3 separate regions of the Homo sapiens genome follow, and regions 1 and 2 are each reported to be linked to region 3. The links are microRNA targets in miRTarBase. Many come from high-throughput screens and were not tested one by one. Region 3 holds a microRNA gene; each other region holds the end of a gene's coding sequence. Distances are between the middles of the regions.

The links. The annotated mature microRNA hsa-miR-6879-5p reads CAGGGCAGGGAAGGUGGGAGAG and lies in region 3 at 4,954-4,975, opposite strand. An mRNA with a match to its seed (bases 2 to 7 or 8) in the 3' UTR can be bound and repressed. Matches are read on the target gene's strand: a 7mer-m8 pairs with bases 2 to 8, a 7mer-A1 pairs with bases 2 to 7 and ends in A, and an 8mer does both.
Region 1: miRTarBase lists DCUN1D5 as a target of hsa-miR-6879-5p. Seed matches in the 3' UTR shown: 7mer-m8 at 2,874-2,880 and 7mer-m8 at 1,258-1,264.
Region 2: the mRNA of PMEPA1 is a reported target of hsa-miR-6879-5p. Seed matches in the 3' UTR shown: 7mer-m8 at 3,618-3,624.

Annotation. Positions count from the first base shown.
Region 1 is chr11:103,056,233-103,063,351 of GRCh38, forward strand. It overlaps DCUN1D5 (defective in cullin neddylation 1 domain containing 5), which reads right to left. Exons shown (of 8, transcript NM_032299.4): 8 at 1-6,182. The coding sequence ends at 6,127. Among named protein-coding and RNA genes, the nearest start is that of DCUN1D5, 32 kb to the right of the region's middle.
Region 2 is chr20:57,645,863-57,652,981 of GRCh38, forward strand. It overlaps PMEPA1 (prostate transmembrane protein, androgen induced 1), which reads right to left. Exons shown (of 4, transcript NM_020182.5): 4 at 2,534-6,736. The coding sequence ends at 6,191. Among named protein-coding and RNA genes, the nearest start is that of ZBP1, 29 kb to the left of the region's middle.
Region 3 is chr11:65,016,366-65,023,484 of GRCh38, reverse strand. MIR6879 (microRNA 6879) reads right to left here and starts at 4,980; the gene lies at 4,915-4,980. It overlaps ARL2 (ARF like GTPase 2), which reads right to left. Exons shown (of 5, transcript NM_001667.4): 2 at 5,011-5,121; 3 at 4,752-4,914; 4 at 2,986-3,066; 5 at 1,301-1,764. The coding sequence ends at 1,630. ARL2-SNX15 (ARL2-SNX15 readthrough (NMD candidate)) reads right to left here. Exons shown (of 11, transcript NR_037650.2): 2 at 5,011-5,121; 3 at 4,752-4,914.

The DNA.
Region 1 (7,119 bases), 38 Mb from region 3:
AATGCCCTACGTAATTACCTACAATCAGGCAGGATTATTACTCCCAATCTCTCTCAGTTCATTTTCTAATTCTCCCTAAAATGCTATTATTGTTCACTACAGTCACACTGATCTCTTTACTGTTTCTTTACACTCTGTACCAGCTCAGGGCCTTAGCATGTAATATTCCTTCTGCCTGGAATGCTCTCCTCCCAGATATCCACACTGCACAACCATTCACCTCCTCAGGCCTCTGCTCAATGTCACATATCAGTGTACATGCTACTTAATAGTAATCCTATCCTCACACACTCTCTGGGCCCCTTCCTCAACTTACTTTCCCCATATAACCTTGTCACCAAATGATAAACTATTTTACTAACCAATTAAAATAAAAATCCCATAAAGGTTCGAAATTACTGTCTTGCTTCGTGCCCTGCAATATATTCAGGCCTAGAATACTTCTTGGCATATAGTAGATGCTTGAGATTTGTTAAATTAATGATTTAGTCTAAGGAGAATATTAATAATTTTGTTTGATTATAAAAATGGCAGGATAACACAGGAAATCCTAGCTATTTCTTTTTATAAAAGACAGTAAATTTGTCAGAAAAAAATAAACTATCATAACTAACCACTTCTTGTTCAAGTAACAAGACGCATTCATTTAACACCTACTAAGTGCTGTGGATAGGGCCTATTTGAACTTCGTAACAATACTGGTAGGTATCATTATCGCCATTTTACAGAAGAAACTGAAAATGACATAGGTTAAGTGGCTTGTTTAAAAGTGACATTAACAGGAATGTCACAAAAAGAAAATCAAACTCAGGTTTCTCAGATAATACTTCTATAAACTCTCTCTCAATAGGCATAGTTTCAGGGAATAATGTAAATTTCAAATAGGTAAGATTTCTACATTTGTAGATAAAAGTAACTGTGTATGAACTTGCTCTAAGCCATTTTATTTGCATGACAGAATAGTAAAGTATATAAACTAACTTCACTTAAGTCAATACTCACAAGTTAATTCTGCTAAGTTTGATAAGTTAGTTTAAGTCTCAAATGACAAGTTGCTCAAATAAAGTTAGTTTTTCCTCTTTCATGGTTCAAAGGCAATTGTTAGCAACAGCAAATTTTTTTTTGACCTTCAAAATATGTGAGGAGCTTTTATCTGTGATCTATTTTCTATGTGAAAAAGTTAATTATTTCCCAGGAGTGGTGGCTCACACCTGTAATCCCAGCACTTTGGGAGTCTGAGGTGGGTGGGATCACTTGAGGGCAGGAGTTTGAGACCAGCCTGGCCAACATGGTGAAATCCCATCTTTACTAAAACAAACAAAAAAAAAAATACAAAACTTAGCTGGGCATGGTGGCAGGCATCTGTAATCCCAGCTACTTGGGAGGTTGACGCACGAGAATCTCTTGAACCCAGGAGGTCGAGGCTGCAGTGAGCTGAGACCGCACCACTGCACTCCATCCTGGGTGACAGAGTAAGACCCTGTCTCCAAAAAAAAAAAGGGAAAAGTTAATTATGGCTAATATTCTACACAAAACACACACAGCTCACAGAGTTTTGGGGAAATCTGGCTCTCTCTATATATTCACTTCAAGTATTTATTAGCTTTTTAAAATCCACAATTTTAACCTCATACTTAAAACCAAACCCATGAAGTATGTGGAAAAAATTCATTAATATCTTAAAGCTCAGAAAGCCAAAAACACCCCAGAAGGATAAAACTTCTAAAAAATGATATAATTTGGGGGAAAGCTAAGACATTTTTAATAAAACGTTTGCTATTAACTCCCATTTATGGACCATAGAGCCAAAAATAAATGCAACAAAGCTCCAATAAAATTGGCATTATAAGACAAGATTCAATACTTAGGTTAAAATCTAACCTTACTATATAGTGTTACTAGATGTATTTTAAGGAATATTTAACACATGGTAAATCAGAAACCATGTAAAAATGAGCCATATTATAAGAGGTTCTAATACATGACACAGCATACACAGCAAAATGTTTCATCGATCCTAAAAAGAAAATGGTCACACCAATAACAACTGGTCAGGAAAAGGAGCAAAGGAAACACTATCTGTACTAATAGAATGTAAAAGATTGTAAGGTGGACACAGCAAATGTATGATCGATCAGTTTTAAGACTGTTTTTAAAAACATAAATAAATTGTGCTTTAAAAGATCTAAAGATTTGTTCCAGTGAAGTACAAGTTCACTAGAAAAATCTCTACAATTAAATTAATGACAACTTATCCAAGGTTTGGGGCAGAAATTCATCTTTCCACAGTCTGTAAGTTTATCATAAAAATTAGACTGCTTTTTGGGCTTCCACCATACTAATCATAGGTCTATTAACAAAAAAGAACAAATCTTAAACAATAGGTTTACCTGGTTCTTACCAAATATTCCTGAAGTAATAAAACTATATCATTAAAAAAAGATATAATCCAGAATATTTAATAATTCAGACTAGCCTTTCCTATTGAGGAAGTTAATGAAATTGTTATTCCTCTTTCTCCTGAAAAAAAAATGATCCTTTCTTTGAAATGTTTCCTTGTGATGATTTCTAATGTCACTCAAAAAGTGGTATTTCCTCAAGAGGGAAGGATTCCTCCTTAGAGGTAAGAATTCTTCTTTAGGAGTAAGACTTTTGGGTTTTTTTGGGGGGGGTTTTAATTTTATTTTTTATTTTTGGCCTTTTGCTTTAACAAAGAAAGGCATTTAGTTTTCCTTTTTTTTTTTTATTAAAATGCCCTCAATTTATTTGATGCCTTAGACATTTAAAACATTAAGCTGTAAGAGCCTTGAAGGCCAGAACAAAGTTTTATCAGAGATGAATTATCACAATAGTTTTAAGTACACTTCTTTAAGAGGGCAGAAGAACAACACCTGGCATTCTTACCAATTACACCTCAAACTGAACATATATTTCAATAAATCCTTTCATAATTTCACATTAGCAAGTAGGCAGACAGGACATGTTTTGTTGAAGAAATACTTCAAAGTGAAATGTTTCATTTTATACGTATGTATCATGTATTCTGAATCTGTGCTATTCCACATACCTTGTATGCCTTGAAAACTCTGGAGTTATCTCAGAATTTACTCCCACCCCGACCCCGAGTGATGGCATTCAATATTAAGATATAATTTTTGGTTTGCTAGATGAAAAGGCATTTGTATTTAAGAGAAATACTCCTCAATCTAACATTCCCAAAGAAGGCTTCAAATTGCAGTTCAAGAAACACTAATCTAGAGTGCTTCTGAGTAAAAACCAATAAAATCTATACATTATACACAAAAATGCTACTACTGTCAAAAATGTATTATATCAATAATTTTATCAGCAGCATTTAAGAAATAAGAAATCATTAGACAATAGAAGACAAACATGGTAATGCAGTCAGGCCAGCACACAATACACCGTTTTCATCACACACTGTCACCTGAATCCCTGGCAATTTCCTAGAGGTATTAACATCATACCTTATTAAGAATTATTGGCCCCGAGGAGTGGGGGGGTGGGGGGGTTGCAATCTGTCCAATCAACATCTGGCTCTACTTTCTCCCAGTAGTATTACATTTGTATAATATTCTTATAGAAACAACTCAACTCCATGTTATAAAGCACCATACGGTATTTCATCCTGTACAAAGGGAAGTAGTTCTGAAAATTTTACAACAGGGTTCGTGGGAAGGCACTTAAAGCTAACTAGTCAAAAAAGGAACCACAACAGTTAGACTTTTTTATACTGCAGGGTCCTTAATATTGTATTGTTTATATCACTTAACATTTTTGATCATAAATTTCCCAGTAAATTAAATGCTATTCAAAATTAACAAAGGAAAGACAGGAAGGGACACAGCCCACACCCTGACTGATGAATTAGGCAGAGTAAATTTGCCTTCAAAGTAGGCAAATGTTATAACTTTAAGAAGGTAAGAGAAATAGATGGAGCAATAGAGTAAAGCAAGCGTGGCCTCAGTGGTACTGGACTCCAAAGTATGGCTAGGGTAGGATAGGACAGTTGACTTTAAGGGAAAAAATAAAGTAAATTTCATTTTCAGACTCAAAAAGTCTTAAAGGTATCTTTGGATAAGTATGCAAAGTAAATACTGTTGACCCTTGAACAGCATGAGTTTGAACTGTGTGGGTCTGCTTATACGCAGATTTTTTTAAACCAAACATGGATTGAAAATACAGTATTCCCGGGATGCGACACCTACATACACGGGGAGGGCTGACTTTTTATACAGGCAGGTTCCACAGGGATGACTGTAGGACTTAAGTATGCACAGATTTGGGTATACACAAGGGTCCTGGTATCAATCTCCTGCGTATACCAAGGATGCCTGTGCTTTCATAAATATACCTTTTAAAAAACATGTCATCTATAAGCTTTAAGTGTTCCCTATTTTACTCAAATACTGAAGATGAAAAAGATATTACCATTAGTTCAGGTTACAAATGGACAATTTATAAGATTTTGCTTATATGTTTTGGAATTTAACAAAAGTGGATATGTTCTTCAGTTCAGATGTGCCTTGAAGAGTCAACTAAATTATAAATTTAAAGGTCTACAAATCTAAATGCTTTCCTTATAATAAATTTGATATTAAAACATCATTCATAATATTAAATCCTAACACCACTGGTATGCTCAGTTCATAACTCAGTGATTCTAATACTTAAGAGGAGCATTCTGTATTATCCTTTTCTATAAGACATTTAGGAAAACTGTCTCCCACTATTATGGGTGTTTCAGAAAACTGTACAAAGTAATCTTATTAAGAAGGCAAGTAAAACAGTGGCAATCATTTTTTTCCCAGCTGATTAACTAAAAAGCAAACAATAAAACACTTTAAAATGTCATTCTCTTAGGTAATCAATATGGAGAAATCATTCTTTAAACAAATTCACCACTGAAAAATCAACCTTTACCTTAAATCCTAATAGAAACACTCCCTTATTATGGAAAAATAACCTCTTTACTTCTCTCTACTCAAACAATGACACTAGAAATGTTTCTGAAGTTGTGACTGGGCTATGAATATGAACAAAGTTTTCATATCACTGGGATACTGGATGGTTTGAAAAGGAATGTACAAACAGGCCTGCTGCTAGTACAAAAGTGCCTTTTACATGAATTAGGAAAGCCTTCCCTTTCCTCAAGACACTTGATTACCAACAGGCAGAAAATTGTGATAATTAGCAAGCTGCAATACTACCAACGTAAATGGCTCTATTGAGTTGTGCACAATTAATTATACCCAGAGTTCTCTCATGATTCCTTATTCTATTGTCTTCTTTTCCTATGTGTATCTTAATTAAATCCATATCACAGCTAACGTTCTCTTAAGGCAAAAAAAAAAAAAAAAAGTGCTTTAAACAAAATTCCCTATATAATGACAGTTAAAAATATAAATATGCTATTATCAACAATAATAATGATGATACAACTTAATAATACAACTTTTTTAGAAAACAAAACAACTGGACATAATCTTTCCAATTCTAAGCTCTCTGAGATAAGACATCTGCATAAGACCTTGGCAGCTTTTATAGAAACCCAGAGCTAAAAGTAGGAGCATTTTTCCAATACCTAGAAATGTTTATTAGCTGCATCAGCAAATCATTATCCCAGAAGTCAAGGCCAACAGTCTTCCAAATTGTGCAGAGATGACTATAATGAGCCATACCATCAGCAGACTATGTTGCCAAATATTAAGACTGTTTAAAATCTTGAAAATTCTGTAAATTCACGGTGAATTGGAACCTCAAAAATCAAAAAATTCAAATTTACAAAAATAAATACCACTCTGACACTCAAGGGACATCTTCACTTTAAGGCCTTTGTCACAAATCTGAATCTTTATTGTTCTGAAATAAATGTTATAAACATAACTCAAAACAAAAACTTCAATATTCAGTCTAAGAAGAGGTGTGGCTCAATGCCCATCACATGTAACAAGAAAAACCTCCTTTAAAAAAAGGAAAAAAAAGTACTATGAGAAGTCTTTCATATGAATGAAAATGCACCCGTTGGATTTTTTTCCCCCTCATCACATTAGCTTGTATACACGTGGGAATTGAAAGGTTTGCATTTTCTTCACATAGTTCTTGCTATGATGTCTGACGGACTTTTTGCCACTCAACAAATTCATCAAGAAGAACAGGCCCTAGAAAAAAAGAAACCATTTTTGTCAGAATTCAGTGAACTCATCTCTCCAATTATAAAACAAACTCCCCACGAGCTCTGCAATGACAGAGGAATGACCCTTCCTTTCTTTGGGTGTTCTGCTTCTAGACACCTTATTCCATTTAATGGTGCTTTCTTATTAGCCTTTTCTTTTTTGCCCTTAAAGACACAAGGAACAATGGTATCTATAGCAACTTCCTTCTCAAGGTGTTTCATGAACCCTCCAGTAACTGAGTCAATACAAATCTCTCCCTTTTTCTAAGTGTCCATAGCATTCTGGCATTTAATTATGAAACAATCTGAAAAGTGTTGAAGGTAATATTTCTATGTTGCCTCCCCAAGAAGTGTACAAGCTTGTTGAGAGGGATCAGCCATAATAGAGACTTACTTTATTCCAATAACAGGATGTAGTACAAAGCTGAACACAAAGCAAGTGCCTAATGAATATCTAATTAATGAGCTAAGTACTATTCTAAAACATATATTTTTATAACGTAGGGGAGGTCCAAACTCATTTGCTGACAGAGCCAAGTAGGCAGTTTAAATGAGCTCAGTGTTTATTTTGTTTAAATGTAGGAAAAAAATCACCGCCACAAAGAAATATGCTTGCTTTATTCTTCTTAAAACACATAATCCTCTGGTGGTCTTTTTCCATTGCTTTTGACAGACATGTTTCTCTATCGTAAGAAAAGCAGCAGAGCACATATGATAATAAATGGCAACTGAAAAACAGCCTAGGTGTTGGCATACCATGAACTGTCAAACTGAAAAGCAAGTCCAACACAGTTAACACTTGACTCCAGCCTCTGACTCCTATAAAGGAGTACTATAAAGGTACAGTTTTGTCAGACTTTTTAAATTTTTCCAACAAATCTAAATGTTGTATTTTAATACAAAATCTCCTAGTTTTAAATGCT
Region 2 (7,119 bases), not on the chromosome of region 3:
CGTTGTATCTAGGAAGTAACTAACTTGCTTTTGATGTTATAGGCTCATAGGCAGAAGGGGCTTGCCTTGTCTTTGATGAGACTTTGGACTGTCGACTTTTGAGTTAATGCTGAAATGAGTTAAGAATTTGGGGGACTGTTGGGAAGGCATGTTTTGTTTTGAAATGTAAAAATGGATATGAGATTTGGGAGGGTTCAGGGGTGGAATGGTAAGGTTTGGCTGTGTACCCACCCAAATCTCCTCTTGAATTGTATCTCCCACAATTACTACATGTCATGGGAGGAATCTGGTGGGAGGAAATTGAATCACGGGGATGCGTCTTTCCCATGCTGTTCTTGTGATAGTGAATAAGTCTTACAAGATCTGATGGTTTTAAAAATGGAAGTTTTGCTGCACAAGCTCTCTTCTCTTGTCTGCTGCCATGTGAGATGTGCCTTTCAGCTTCTGCCATGATTGTGAGGCCTCCCCAGCCACCTGGAACTGCAAGTCTAATAAACCTCTTTCTTTTGTAAATTGCCCAGTCTCTGGAATGTCTTTATCAGCAGTGTGAAAACAAACGAATACAGCAGAGATCAGAAAACTTTGGCAAAGGGTCAGATTCTAAACATTTTAGGCTTTGTACATCGTATGGCCTTTGTGGCAATTACTCAACTCTACCATTGCAGCACAAAAGCAGCCATAGGTGACCTGTAACTAAACTGGTGTGGCTGTTTTCCAATAAAGCTTTATTTACAAAAACAGGCAGCTGGGGATTTGGTGTATGGGCCAATGTTTGGTGACCCCTGGTCTAGAGGGACGACACAAACAGCCCAGGAGCCCAGCAGGGCCCTGACACTCCTTAGAGCATCTTGCTATCGAAATAATGCATTTCCTAGTCACTGAAATCCCTGTTTGCTTATTTTTTGTTACTTGCAGCCAGAAGCCCCCAGACAGATACAAGTGTGCCAGCTCCTGTGCCCACTCCTCCCCTGTTTCCTACTGGCTGCACTGGGGTGGGTGGGGGAGGCCAGGGGTGGACAGGCAGCTGGATGGTGCACATCTGTCTACTCATATCTGACTGTCCATCCATGGGAAGATTTTGAGGAAATTGGATGAGGAAACAGCGTGGGTGGGATAGAGCATCCCAACTCTTCCAAGCCAGTGACACAGAAGGCCGGCTGACTTCTCTGCCTCGGTTTCCATGTCTGAAGAATGGGGTGTTGTGAGAATGGAAGCAGTTGTGGAGTGCAGGCCTGGTCCCTCCTGGGAGCACGTGTTTATCCCCCATGGACAATGGACGTGAGTCTGGCCCTGACCTCAGGCAGTGCAGTGACCTTGGGGAGGAGCCATGAACGCCACAAGCAGTGCAGTGACTGCCTCAGTAGAGCCGGCACAGAGAAGCTGGGGGCATCCTGGGAGGCTTTCTGGAGAAGGTGCTATCAGAACTGGGTCTGGGTCTGAATGATGTCAGGGCAATGTGGGCTTTGAGAGAAGGGGATCCCAGGCAGAAGGGGCAGCAGTGAGCATAGCCACAGGGAGAAAATGGGGTGTGTGGGGGGAGAAACCGGTGCATGTTGCTGGAACATCTGGGAGATGCCAGAGAGAATGGGAAGGCTCTGCAGGGCCTTGTGAGCCTCGAGGGAGGTCAAGGCTGCAGTGAGCTATGATCATACCACTGTACTCCAGCCTAGGTGACAAGGCGAGATCCCCATCTCTAAAAAAATTTTATTTACAAGTAACGCATGGATTTTTGACAGCAAGGGGGTTCAGCGTGCCTTGAACCCCTCGTTGTTCAAGGGCCAAGTGTAGTAAAATAAATGAGACAGGGTCTGTAGTGGGTGCTGCAGGTGCCCCCAGGTCCCACTGGAACCCTTTAGGGAGTCTGTACAGCCCTCCCCCTGTCTCCATGAGCATTGCTAGTGGCTGGCTTCTGGGAGGACAGTTCTGCAGCTTCTGAGACTCACTCCTCCATCTTGTGCACCAGGAGCCAGAGGGGTCTGGGACTCTACCTTTCCAGGGTCCAGAGCCCCCACAGGTCCTCTTGGGATCAAGCTGAGGCTGGAACTCTGTCCACAAGTGTCTCCCTTGCTCAGGTTCTCCCCCTCCTTGATCCTCTTCCCTGACTCCCTTAGCGGAAGCCCCCTGGGAGCACATCCTTAAAACGTCCTAATCCCTTACACACAAGGCCACGTCTTGGGGTTACTTCTGGAAGAACCCTACCTAAGACAGTTTCTTTTTTCCTTGCAGACCTTATCAGAGCTTTCGTCATGCTATGGTGAATAATGATTTCCCGACGGAGGAAAAGTATGCAGTGTTTTGCAAAATTGTTTAACAACGACCACCCCCTTTACCAGAACCTGCCTGAGCTAGTGTTTTCACTGGGCTCCCTGAATGCTGCCTGAACTAATAAAACAGAAAGTTTGAACGAACTGTTCAAGGTTGCCCAGCAGCTCCGAGGGATCGCTTCGCCTCCCTTGAATGCACCCGGGGTTATTGTAGAAAGGGGTGGGAAGTGAGAAGAGCTACATTTGGCCAAAGAAGTGAAAAAGCCTCATTCCAAAGAATTGTAAAATTTATTGTATAAGTATTGCAGCTTTTCAGAATGTCATCATTGCCACTAATGATTACTGATACACAACAAGCAGTTTCTTCAGGCCTGTGGATTGGCATCCAAATACAGAGTCTTACGCAGCGGGGACGTGGGTGCGCGCCCCGCATGCCACGGAAAGCTTACATAAGTTTAACTTGAACAGAGCTTGGGAAATGGGGCTGCAAAGGAGAGCAGTTCCCACGCCAGGAACCAACGTGAAAGCATTGGAATCAGCACAACAGCCATGGAATCAGGCAGGCAGGGGAGGACGGGCTGTGTCCTTCTGAGCTCTATAGTACAGCAAGATTTCAAGCAGTTTCCAGAAAAACAACAACAACGACATTTTCTTTCCTTATCGACGGGATATTTTATGGTTCTGGAAGCTTCGTGTTGCACATAGGAAAAAAAATTTCTCTGAAACGTACAATTCATAGGGACGACCAATGAGGACAGGGAATGAACCCGGCTCTCCCCCAGCCCTGATTTTTGCTACATATGGGGTCCCTTTTCATTCTTTGCAAAAACACTGGGCTTTCTGAGAACACGGACGGTTCTTAGCACAATTTGTGAAATCTGTGTAGAACCGGGCTTTGCAGGGGAGATAATTTTCCTCCTCTGGAGGAAAGGTGGTGATTGACAGGCAGGGAGACAGTGACAAGGCTAGAGAAAGCCACGCTCGGCCTTCTCTGAACCAGGATGGAACGGCAGACCCCTGAAACGAAGCTTGTCCCCTTCCAATCAGCCACTTCTGAGAACCCCCATCTAACTTCCTACTGGAAAAGAGGGCCTCCTCAGGAGCAGTCCAAGAGTTTTCAAAGATAACGTGACAACTACCATCTAGAGGAAAGGGTGCACCCTCAGCAGAGAAGCCGAGAGCTTAACTCTGGTCGTTTCCAGAGACAACCTGCTGGCTGTCTTGGGATGCGCCCAGCCTTTGAGAGGCCACTACCCCATGAACTTCTGCCATCCACTGGACATGAAGCTGAGGACACTGGGCTTCAACACTGAGTTGTCATGAGAGGGACAGGCTCTGTCCTCAAGCCGGCTGAGGGCAGCAACCACTCTCCTCCCCTTTCTCACGCAAAGCCATTCCCACAAATCCAGACCATACCATGAAGCAACGAGACCCAAACAGTTTGGCTCAAGAGGATATGAGGACTGTCTCAGCCTGGCTTTGGGCTGACACCATGCACACACACAAGGTCCACTTCTAGGTTTTCAGCCTAGATGGGAGTCGTGTACAAACCTTGGCAAAAAAAGGTTGGAGGAGCAGGAGTAACCTCACCAAGCTAGGCACCTCCCTGGTAGAGACAGGGTGAGGACGCGCGAGGATGATGGGGTGTCTGAAAAGCAGGAGCCCTTGGTGGACCCTGGGAGGGGATACCAGTCCCAGGTGAGTGAGGCACTGTCCGGGAACGTCCTCACCGAGCGACGGGAGTGTCACTGCTTCTTCAGTAAGGCACTAGAGACGCGTCACATAAAGGAAAGATACGTTTTAATCATCTTTACAAGTGCGTCCTTGTACCTTTCGGGATAACCTGTACTGATTTCTCTGCAGGACCTTTTCAAAGAATCCTCTTCAAGAGAGAAACAAATTTTAGGCTGACGACTTCACGGAGAGGCAGGTTCTGCTGTTGCCAATGAACGAGAACTTTCTACTAGGCTGGCGGCATGCAGAGCCCACGTCTGTCAGCTGCCACCTTCGTAAAGCACACGTTTCACATGCATGAGCTCGAGTGGCTAGAACTTCAAAACTGTGCTCAGGTTTTTGTTTTGGAAGTTATAAAAAAGTTGCTCACAAACAATAGTTATTGCCTTTTATATCTTTTATGTTAGTCTACTAGTCAGCATTCTGCCCAAAATGGAAAGCCACTCCCATGGGAAGGGAGGGGGTAGCAGCTGGGAGTCTGCTCTTCCAGCTGGGGGCCCTCCCACCCCCATGGGGAGGAAAGACGTCAAGCTCCAGCCACTGGCCCCGGTGGGTCCCAAAGCCCCACCCCTCATGCTCTCCTCTGGTCACCTCTATTTACGCTCACATGCCCCTTCCTGTCCTTCACCTGCACGTCACCAGCAGGTCCCGCCAACCCCAAATCTATCTGGTGAAAACCTGGAGAACAAGAGCGGAGTCTAAGAGAGATGTAAATGAAAACACAGATCAACAGACACACCAGAAGGGAAGCGTTGTTTCCGCGGGGAAAGGAGATGGAAAGGGGAAGAGAAGGTGAAGAATTCTGCGCCCGAAGCTCGGGTTGGTGTTTGCTCAACTGCTTTACTCATTTTAACCCTTTCACCTATCCTGGGAGAAACCCAGGCTTGTCACCTTTTCATGTTGGGTTGTTTATTGGCCTCTTAAGTGAGAATTGATCCGTGAAGGGAAACAGACAGGAGGAGGTCAGATTGCGAATACCTGGGGCTTCCTAGGGTCCAGTGCGGCAGTTACCGCACCTGCCTTCACCGGTGAACCTTTAGCCAGCTGAACAACCACCAAAGCGCCCTGCAGAGACAAGTCATCGAGCCCTCTGGCATGTCCCTGGTAGCCCGGGCACCAGCCGCTGCGGCTTGTGAGGGGCACCATGCTCCACCCCACGGGGACCTTCACAGTTGGAAAAAAGAAGAGGAAAAACTAATTCCTTCGGTAACAGTTTATTTTCATTTTTGGGAAAGGCAAAACCACTACCTGGAACTCGGTGCCTCCGTGGTTAACTTTCCTATTTTGCTTGTGATTTAAAGGCTGTTCTGGGTCAGGGGGGAAAAGGTGTCTCCTTCGGTAGGGAATATATAACGTGGTGATAACCTGTCACTAGGCAGAAGCATCCACTCTGCAGGGACAGTGGCCCCTCGGGAAAGCCCGCCGCTCCTGGCCAAGGCCTCTCTGCAGACTCCACGGGGGCTCACCCTCTGCCGTCAGGCGACTCTGAAATTCCGACATTTCTCCCTTAAAGTCTCAACAGACACAAGAGAAGTTTCCATCAAGCAAGCACTGACATATTTATATTAAAAAATAGTGCAAAATCTCAACATTTATATAAATAACTCTAAACCCCTGCTTTGTAATTTTTTTCTTTACAAGGTAATACACACTTTCTGACTTGGCACTCAAAAATTGCCATTTTTTTCCTCTTCTAGTTCAGAAAACAACTTTTTTTTTTAATAGGCCTCTTCTAATACAAAAATACTCCTGCCCTCGCACATACAGTTTCTCTTATCTTATATATATTTATATATATAATATTGCAGATCTTTAAACAAAGGTTTTGTGCAAATATGTCTTTAAAGTTAAGTGAAATTATCATAAACAAAAGAAAATAAGCATTCACGCACGCAGCTCAACTAGAAACAAGAAAGACTACTGTAGAAATTTTTTTTCTTTTGCCTTCAAGACACAGCTCAACAAAGAAACGTGGTTTTTTTTTTTCTTTTTTCTTTTTTTTTTTGCAAGCTCTCTTAGCTTGTGCATTCAGACCAGACATCACATGTAAATATTTATACACAGGGAGGTGGGAGGGGAGGGCCACACGATGCGTTGCTGCGCCCCCCGCCTTCCTCTCACTCCTCTTCTAAGAAGCGCGGAGTGTTCTGCCTTTTCACCTACGCAGCCCCAGCCCGGCCCCCCTGGGGACCCTAGAGAGGGTGTCCTTTCTGTTTATCCTTCTCTTTGCTCCAGATGGCTGCGCTCTCTAGGGGCGCGATGTGTGTGTGGTGGAGCCGGGTCCCCTCCAGCAAGGAGGGCGGCCCACTGCTCTGCTGGTGCTGGAAGGAGGACCCCGGGTAGTGGCCGATGACCTCGCTGTAGGTGGGCGGCGGCCCCTCCATGCGCCCGCCGCTGCCGTAGCACGTGGCGCTGATGCCCGAGTTACTGCTGGGGGGGCAGGGGCCGCCCAGCCTGGCACTATCCATCAGGTCACTGTCGAAGATGGTTCTGTTTGGGGGTGCGCGCACCGACTCCCGGTTCAGTTCCAGCTGCTGCTCGGGGTCCCGAAGCTGGAGGGTGCAGGGGCCCTGGTAGGGTGGGGGCTCCTCCCCGTCTGACAGCGAGATGGTGGGTGGCAGGTCGATCTCGTGCTGCAGGTACGGATAGGTGGGCTGGAAGCGGTGGAAGCGCTCCCGCTGGGCGAAGGGCGGCACGGCCAGGCGGTCGGTGGGCCGAGGCGGGGCGTAGACCTGCGGCTGGAGGAAGCAGAGCGGGAGTGAGGGAGGGCGGCTGTCTCAGGTGGGTTGTCCAGAAGCGATCCTGAGACTGGAGTTCTGCTGCATGGGACTTGGCTCTCTGGGGAAAGGGAGAGGGCAGCAGGGCTGGCGGGGGCGGGAGCCCAGAGCCTGATCCCGCGGGGGCCCTGGCCTGGGGGGCAGCACTGCAGAGCTGCACCGCCCTCCTCCAAACAGTGGCAGCGTCCGTGCTCCCGTGTGCAGAGAGCAGAGAGCTGGGCTGCTCCCTCAGGGGCAGGGAGCAGATGATCTCCGGCAAGGAGGATCCCAGCAGCAAGGGCACTGCAGAGGAGGGCGGAGGGGTGAGCCTTTAGCAGCCCACACTGTTCCAGCCGCAGCGGGAG
Region 3 (7,119 bases):
TTATGACACAGATTCTTTTGCTCACGTTTTTTTGCTGACCTTCTCCCTATTATCACCCTGCTCTCCTACCACATTCTTCTTGCTGAGATAGTGAAAGTAATAATCAATAAAAACTGAAGAAACTAAGAGACCGGTCCCAGTGTGGGTCCTTGGTATGCTGAGCGCCGGTCCCCTGGGCCCACTTTTCTTTCTCTATACTTTGTGTCCTATTTCTTTTCTCAGTCTCTCGTCCCACCTGACGAGATATACCCACAGGTGTGGAGGGACAGGCCACCCCTTCACACAGAACCCTGCAGAGTAAGCAGCTGCTAGGACCCTGTGCCATGAAAACATCTGCCAGTTTTGCCACTTGGATTGGACCCCTGGGGTGGCCTCATTTCCTATCCTTTCCCAACCTGGCACTGCTTCTGAGTTCCTGTAGCCTTCAGGGAAGGCCTCAGTTACCCCTGCCTGATGTGGCCCCCCTCCCACCCTCTGGCTGCACTCTCTCCTACACATGACTCTATGCACCTCCCCATTTCCCAAGAGCCATTGCTTTTTTTTTTTGAGACAGAGTCTCGCTCTGTCACCCAGGCTGGAGTGCAGTGGCGCAATCTCGGCTCACTGCCAGCTCCGTCTTCCCGGGTTCACGCCATTCTCCTGCCTCAGCCTCCCGAGTAGCTGGGACTACAGGCGCCCGCCACCACGCCCGGATAATTTTTTGTATTTTTAGTAGAGACGGGGTTTCACCGTGTTAGCCAGGATGGTCTTGATCTCCTGACTTCATGATCCGCCCATCTTGGCCTCCCAAAGTGCTGGGATTACAGGTGAGCCACCGCGCCCAGCCGGAGCCCTTGCTCATCATGCCTGTCCTGTGATCCCCTCTGCCTGAATCTGTGCTGGCCTTGTACAGCTGTTCAGGTTGTCCACTGCACATGGGTTCCTGGCTGCAACAGAGAATTGGGAGCTGAATTTCAGCCCATGTTCCATGCAAAAAGTTGGAGCCCTGGTCTGCAGCTGTGTCTGTTTTTCTAATTCATACCTATGAGAGTTGGATTTCCCCTGGTGAACTGTCTTCCCCTTCCTCTACCTAGAAAACTACTCGCGCTTTACTCCCAGCTTTAATGTGACCTCCTTTAGGAAGCCTGCAGATGGAATCAGTTGCACCGTGTCCCATGCTTCTATAACTTTTTCTGCATCCCTTTGACATAGCCACAGTTCACCATCGACTCCAATGATCCATTCCTTTCTGTCCCCTGCTAGATTGAGGGTCCCAGGTGGTCTCTAACGCTGTTGAATCAACAAATGACTCAGCCAGGAATCGGGGCAAGGAGCGGTTTATTTCACAACTGAGTGAAGGATGAGGCCCACAGCCTCGGTAGCAGCAGTAGCAGCTCCTCCCCGCCCAGCCCTCTCTTCTTGGTATGGTAGCCAAAGGCCAGGTCAGGAGCCAGAGAGACAGCCAGGGCACAGCCCTCCCGCCATGGGAGCCGGGTGGCCACAGAGCAGCAGCGGGCAGCAGTAGCAGCAGCAGGCTGGGGTGGAGGAGGGGGAGTGTTAGTTTGGCCGGCTGACTCCCAACCCCCCATGGGTAGTGTTTGGTGAAGGTTGAGGGACCTGGACTGCTAGGTGGGGGGCATCTGGAGTGGTTCAGTCAGCTGTGAAAATGCGGCTGGAAATGTCATCCAGGAGCCAGTCGATGCCCGGCAGCAGGTTCTCCCCGGTGACGGCGCTGCAGCCCTGGATGCACCAGTGGTGGCTGCGGATGGAGTCCAGCTCCAGGACCTGGGAGGACAAAGGTGCTGATGGTGGTGGCCAGTGACTGCAGACCCTGCCTGCCGTCAGCCCCTTCCCTCCCCAGCCCAGAGGAACTCCACGCCTTCCTCAAGGCCCTGCTCCATGTCATCCCATCCAGGAAGCCCCGCCGGTCCCAGGGAGAGTTTGTCAGACCCCAGGGGCACCTGGGCTCTCTGTCCAGTTCCATGCCAGTGCTGCCCCTTAGTGATGTAAATGCAGCATGGGCTCCTGAGCATCCACCAGGATCCGGGCATCGTGCTAGGAGCCCCACACACCCTCTCTCACTCATTCTCCTCAAGCCCTCATGAGCCAGGGATTGTGTCGACCATTTCACCAAGGAGGAAACCAAAGTTCAGAGAGGTTAAGCAACCTGCCTAGGGGAACATAGCTCATAAGTGGCAGAGCCAAGATTTTAACCCTGCTCTTTCTCACTGTGGTGCTTGAGCACTAGAATCATGGTTAAAATGTGGGCTCTGGGGTCAGACACAGGCTTCCTGTCTATTTAGTGGCTGTGTGACCTGGGACAAGTTACCTAACCTCTGTGAGCCTGCTTCACCATCTGTAAAATAATAGTTCTCACCTCATGAGGTGGTTGTGAGAATGAAATGAGTTAATCCATGCAAGGAGCAGAGCATACTGAAAGCACTGACTTGTGCTGGCTACCGTTAGCCTGTGAACAACACATGCGCAGCTCTGCCTTCCCCAGGCTGTGGGCCACCCCATGCCTTATTAATCACTGGATCCCCAGTGCCCTGCATAGGTCCTGCCACCTAGCAGGGCTAGGCTAATAAATGCTTTTCTTATTATTATTTTACTTCTTTCTTTTTTTTTTTTTTTTTGAGACGAAGTCTCACTCTTTTCCCACAGGCTAGAGTACAATGGCGCAATCTTGGCTCACTGCAACCTCCACGTCCTGGGTTCAAGCGATTCTCCTGTCTCAGCCTCCTGAGTAGCTGGGCTTACAGGCGCACGCCACTGCACCCAGCTAATTTTTGTATTTTTAGTACAGACGGGGTTTCATCATGTTGGTCAGGCTGGTCTCGAACTCCTGACCTCAGGTGATCCACTCGCCTTGGCCTCCCAAAGTGCTGGTATTACAGGCGTGAGCCACTGCACCCAGCCTTTTTGGTTATTTTTAATAAATGCTTTTAAAATAAATAAATGTATGCCCCTTTCCCTCAGCGAGCCTGTCCCGGGGCCTGGACTCACCTCGCGGATGGCGTTAGAGGACAGTGCTCCAGGCAGGTCCTGCTTATTAGCAAAGATGAGGAGGGTTGCTCCGGCCAGGCGCTGGGGGAGAAAAGATAGAGGGGTGGGGTGGGGACTCAGAGGACAGCCTGACCCCTCCTCTAATGGCCCAGAGCATCTGGGGTGAAGGATCGACCTGGAAGATCAAGGTGAGGCCCCGTGGTGGTGGGAGAGGCCCAGGAGTGAGTTTGTGGACGTAGCCATCAAGGCTGGCCCACATGAATGGAGCAGCCCTGGGCCAGGGTTCTGGTTCCAGCCAACCACCACCCAGGGGACACCGCTGTCCCCATGCTCCAGCTTCCTCTTCCATGAACAGGGAGGGGTGTTGCATAAGATGATCCCTGAGCTCTCCGTGGTTCTAGACTGCTCCAATCTGATGACCAGACATGCACAGAGGATGTGAACTCTCCCTCTTCTGGGTTCACACAGCCCTTTAACCGTTCCACTCCCGACAGGCCTCACTGTCCACCTCTGATTCTAGTTGTTTCCACATATGTGTCTGTGATTGGGAGAGATGTGGGTGGACGGGTCTAACCCTTGGGCCTTGACCTGCCTTGACCAGCATTTGACGGCCCTGATCTCATCTGACCTGCTCCACCCACATAGGAGATGTGTGCGGTGTGCCCAGGACAGTCCCCACTCTGCCTGCAGAATCCCCCCTTTCACTCTCACAAGTGTCCTCATTTTCAACTAAATGCAATTTTGTAGCCTGAATCAAACATTGGAACACAAAAAGTATATTAGTGGAAAAACGTGAAATTCAAATAAAATCTGTAATTAAGATAATAGTAATTCACCAGTGTTGATTTATTAGTTTGGACAGGCCACGGTTAGGTAAGATGGGGAAGCAAGGTAAAGGGTATATGGGGGACCTCTGACCTCTGTACTATCTTTGCAAGTGTCCTTCTTTTTTTTTTTTGAGACGGAGTCTCACTCTGTTGCCCAGGCTGGAGTGCAGTGGCACAATCTCGGCTCACTGCAAGCTCCGCCTCCCAGGTTCACGCCATTTTCCTGCCTCAGCCTCCTGAGTAGCTGGGACTACAGGCGCCCGCCACCATGCCTGGCTAATTTTTTGTATTTTTAGTAGACACGGGGTTTCACCATGTTAGCCAGGACGGTCTCGATCTCCTGACCTCGTGATCCGCCCGCTTCAGCCTCCCAAAGTGCTGGGATTACAGGCGTGAGCCACCGCACCTGGCCCCTTCCTTTTTTTTTTTTTTTGAGACAGGGTCTTGCTCTGTCGCCCAGGAGGCTGGAGTGCAGTGGCACGATCACAGCTCACTGCAGCCTCAACCTCCTGGGCTCAACTGATCCTCCTGTCTGAGCCTCCAGAGTAGCTAGGACTATAGGTGCGTGCCACCACCCCCAGCTGAGGTCACACAGCAAAGAGTCAGACTCTTGAGCCAGGCTCCATGGCCTCTCGAAGCTTCATACTGGCCTTGGGTTATCCTCCCTAAAGCCCAGTGATGTGGGTGTCATCATCACCATTTCAAGGCATAGAAACTGATGCTCAGGGTAGTGACGTAGTAACACCACAGGGACGTTAACTCAATCTCAGTCCACAGCATGTGTCCTGCCTCTGGCACCATGGGCCTCCCATGGTGGGGGCCCAGAGAAGGAAGGGATCCTGCCTCTGGTTTCCCTCTGGGGCCACGGGCCCCTCTGGGCATCTGCTGAGAAGGCAGCCACACGTCCATACATGTACACAAAGGGTAGGAGCTGCCCACCTCCTCCACCAGCAGGCTCTGGAGCTCCCGCTGGCAGTCCTGCATGCGCTGGCGGTCTGCGCTGTCCACTACCCAGATGAGGCCATCGGTGCTCTCAAAGTAGTTCCGCCAGTAGGACCGCAGGGACTTCTGGCCACCCACATCCCAGATGTTCAGCTTGAATCTGGGCAAGGAGCGGGTGACAGGAGGGTCAGCTGGGCCCCTCTCCCACCTTCCCTGCCCTGCTCTGGGCTGGCCCTCCCATGGGGCCCCTGCTCACCCTCGGTGCTCCAGGGTCTTGATGTTGAAGCCCAGCGTTGGGGAGATGGTGTCGATGTCCTCCCCATTGAACTTCTTCAGGATGGTTGTCTTTCCAGCATTGTCCAGGCCACTGGGGCGCAGCAGGTTAAGGAGAAGTCCCTGTTCTCTGCCAGGTGGTGACATTGTTGCAGAGCCCCTTAGGGGACTCATTATTTCCCACCATGTATCAAACTGAGTTGAGCACATGCCTGACCATAATCGGCCCACAATAAATATGAAAGTATCAAATTATAAATATCATCTCTACTGACCAAAGGCTCCTTAATTTGTTGAACACCTACTATGTGCCAGACCCTCTTCTGGGTGCTAGAGGACAAAGCCCTGCCCTTAGGAAGCTTACACTCTAGCGGGAAGACAGTCAATAAAGTACAAACAAATGAGAAAAGAAGGCCCTGCCAGATCCCGGCTAGCGCCATCAACACAACAGAGAGGCTTTCCAAGAGGGCCATCGGAGGAGGCTCTTTCAGCTCAGGTGCCGGGGAAGGCCTCTCTGAGGTGTCTGGAGCTGAGACCCAAAATACAAGGAGCAAGCTTTTTGAAGAACTAAGGTAAGAACAAATATCTGGAGGCAGCCACCCTCATTTGTTTCTGGAATATTCCAGACCTGCTACTGCACAGTGCAAATTAATGGGTGTGCTTACCTGTGGAAGGAACCACCCTCCTCTATCTTCCCAACACTGCAGCTCAGTTGGGCATGGTGGGGTGGGCGGGTCCTGGACTCGACCACCTTTCCCTGCTCATCGGAGCTGGGGCAAATGACCTAGGCCCAGGAGAGGGGTGAGGAGGGCATTTCCCCTGAGGCCCAGCCTTAGCCCCTGGAACCTAGCCGCTGATGACCCCCTGCCCCCAAGCCATCATCCATGTTTCCTTCCCCTCTTGATCATTCCCACTGGCTGATGAGCTTGCCGTTCTTTCTCCCACCTTAAAAAGAGCAAATAGGCCGGGCGCGGTGGCTCACACCTGTAATCCCAGCACTTTGGGAGGCCAAGGTGGGTGGATCATCTGAGGTCAGGAGTTCGAAACCAGCCTGACCAACAAGGTGAAACCCCATCTCTACTAAAACTACAAAAATCAGCCAGGCGTGGTGGCGGGCCCCTATAGTCCCAGCTACTCGGGAGGCTGAGACAGGAGAATTGCTTGAACCCGGCAGGCAGAGGTTGCAATGAGCCGAGATCACACCACTGTACTCCAGCCTGGGCGACTCAGCGAGACCCCGTCTGATTAAAAAAAAAAAAAGAGCAAACAAAGCCCTTGATCTCTCTGCCCCATCTAGTTATTCATTTATATCTTTCCTTTTACAGGAAATCTCAAAATAGTTGTTTGTGCTCACCCCCATTTCTGCCTTCTTGCTCTTTCAAGAACACACTCCCATCAGGCTTTTGCTGCTGCTGTGGCCAAAACTGTCCTTACCAAGGTCAGTCCCCAAAGACCTCCCTGTGGCCCTCTAGTGCTGGGACAGCGCTCAGTCATCTTCTGTTCCCCACTCAGCACCTGATGGAGTGGCTCACCCTCCTCCCCAGCACATGCGCTGCCCTTGGCACTGGGACACACCCTCACCTGGTTCTGCTCCTCACCTGACTTCATCCTGGTACAACCGGGTTCTCTTCTCTGGCCACGCTCATCCCTGGGTGACCTCATCCAGGATCACAGCTTCAAATACCATCTCTATCCTGATAACACCCAAATGTGCACCTCCCACACACTGGACCTCAGTGCCTACATCCAGCTGCCTGCCTGACACTTCTGGGCTGTCTCGGAGGCATCTCACATGGCACACACAGGCACACACAGGGTTCTCATCTCCACCCTGAACCTGCTCCTCCCCCAGTCCTCTCCATCTCAGCAAATGGTTCCTCACCCTTCTAATTGCTCAGGCCAGAAACTTCCATGACCTCACTACTTCCATCCTGGTCCAAGCCACCATCCTATCTCGCCTGCGTCACTGCAGTGGCCTAACTGGTCTGCGATTCCTTCTCTCCACTGCACTTCTCACTGAAAGGGAAAACCAAAAACCAAAAGGCCCTAGGTGAGGGGGTTCCCAGTCAACGCTCCTCCTCCCCACTCCAGC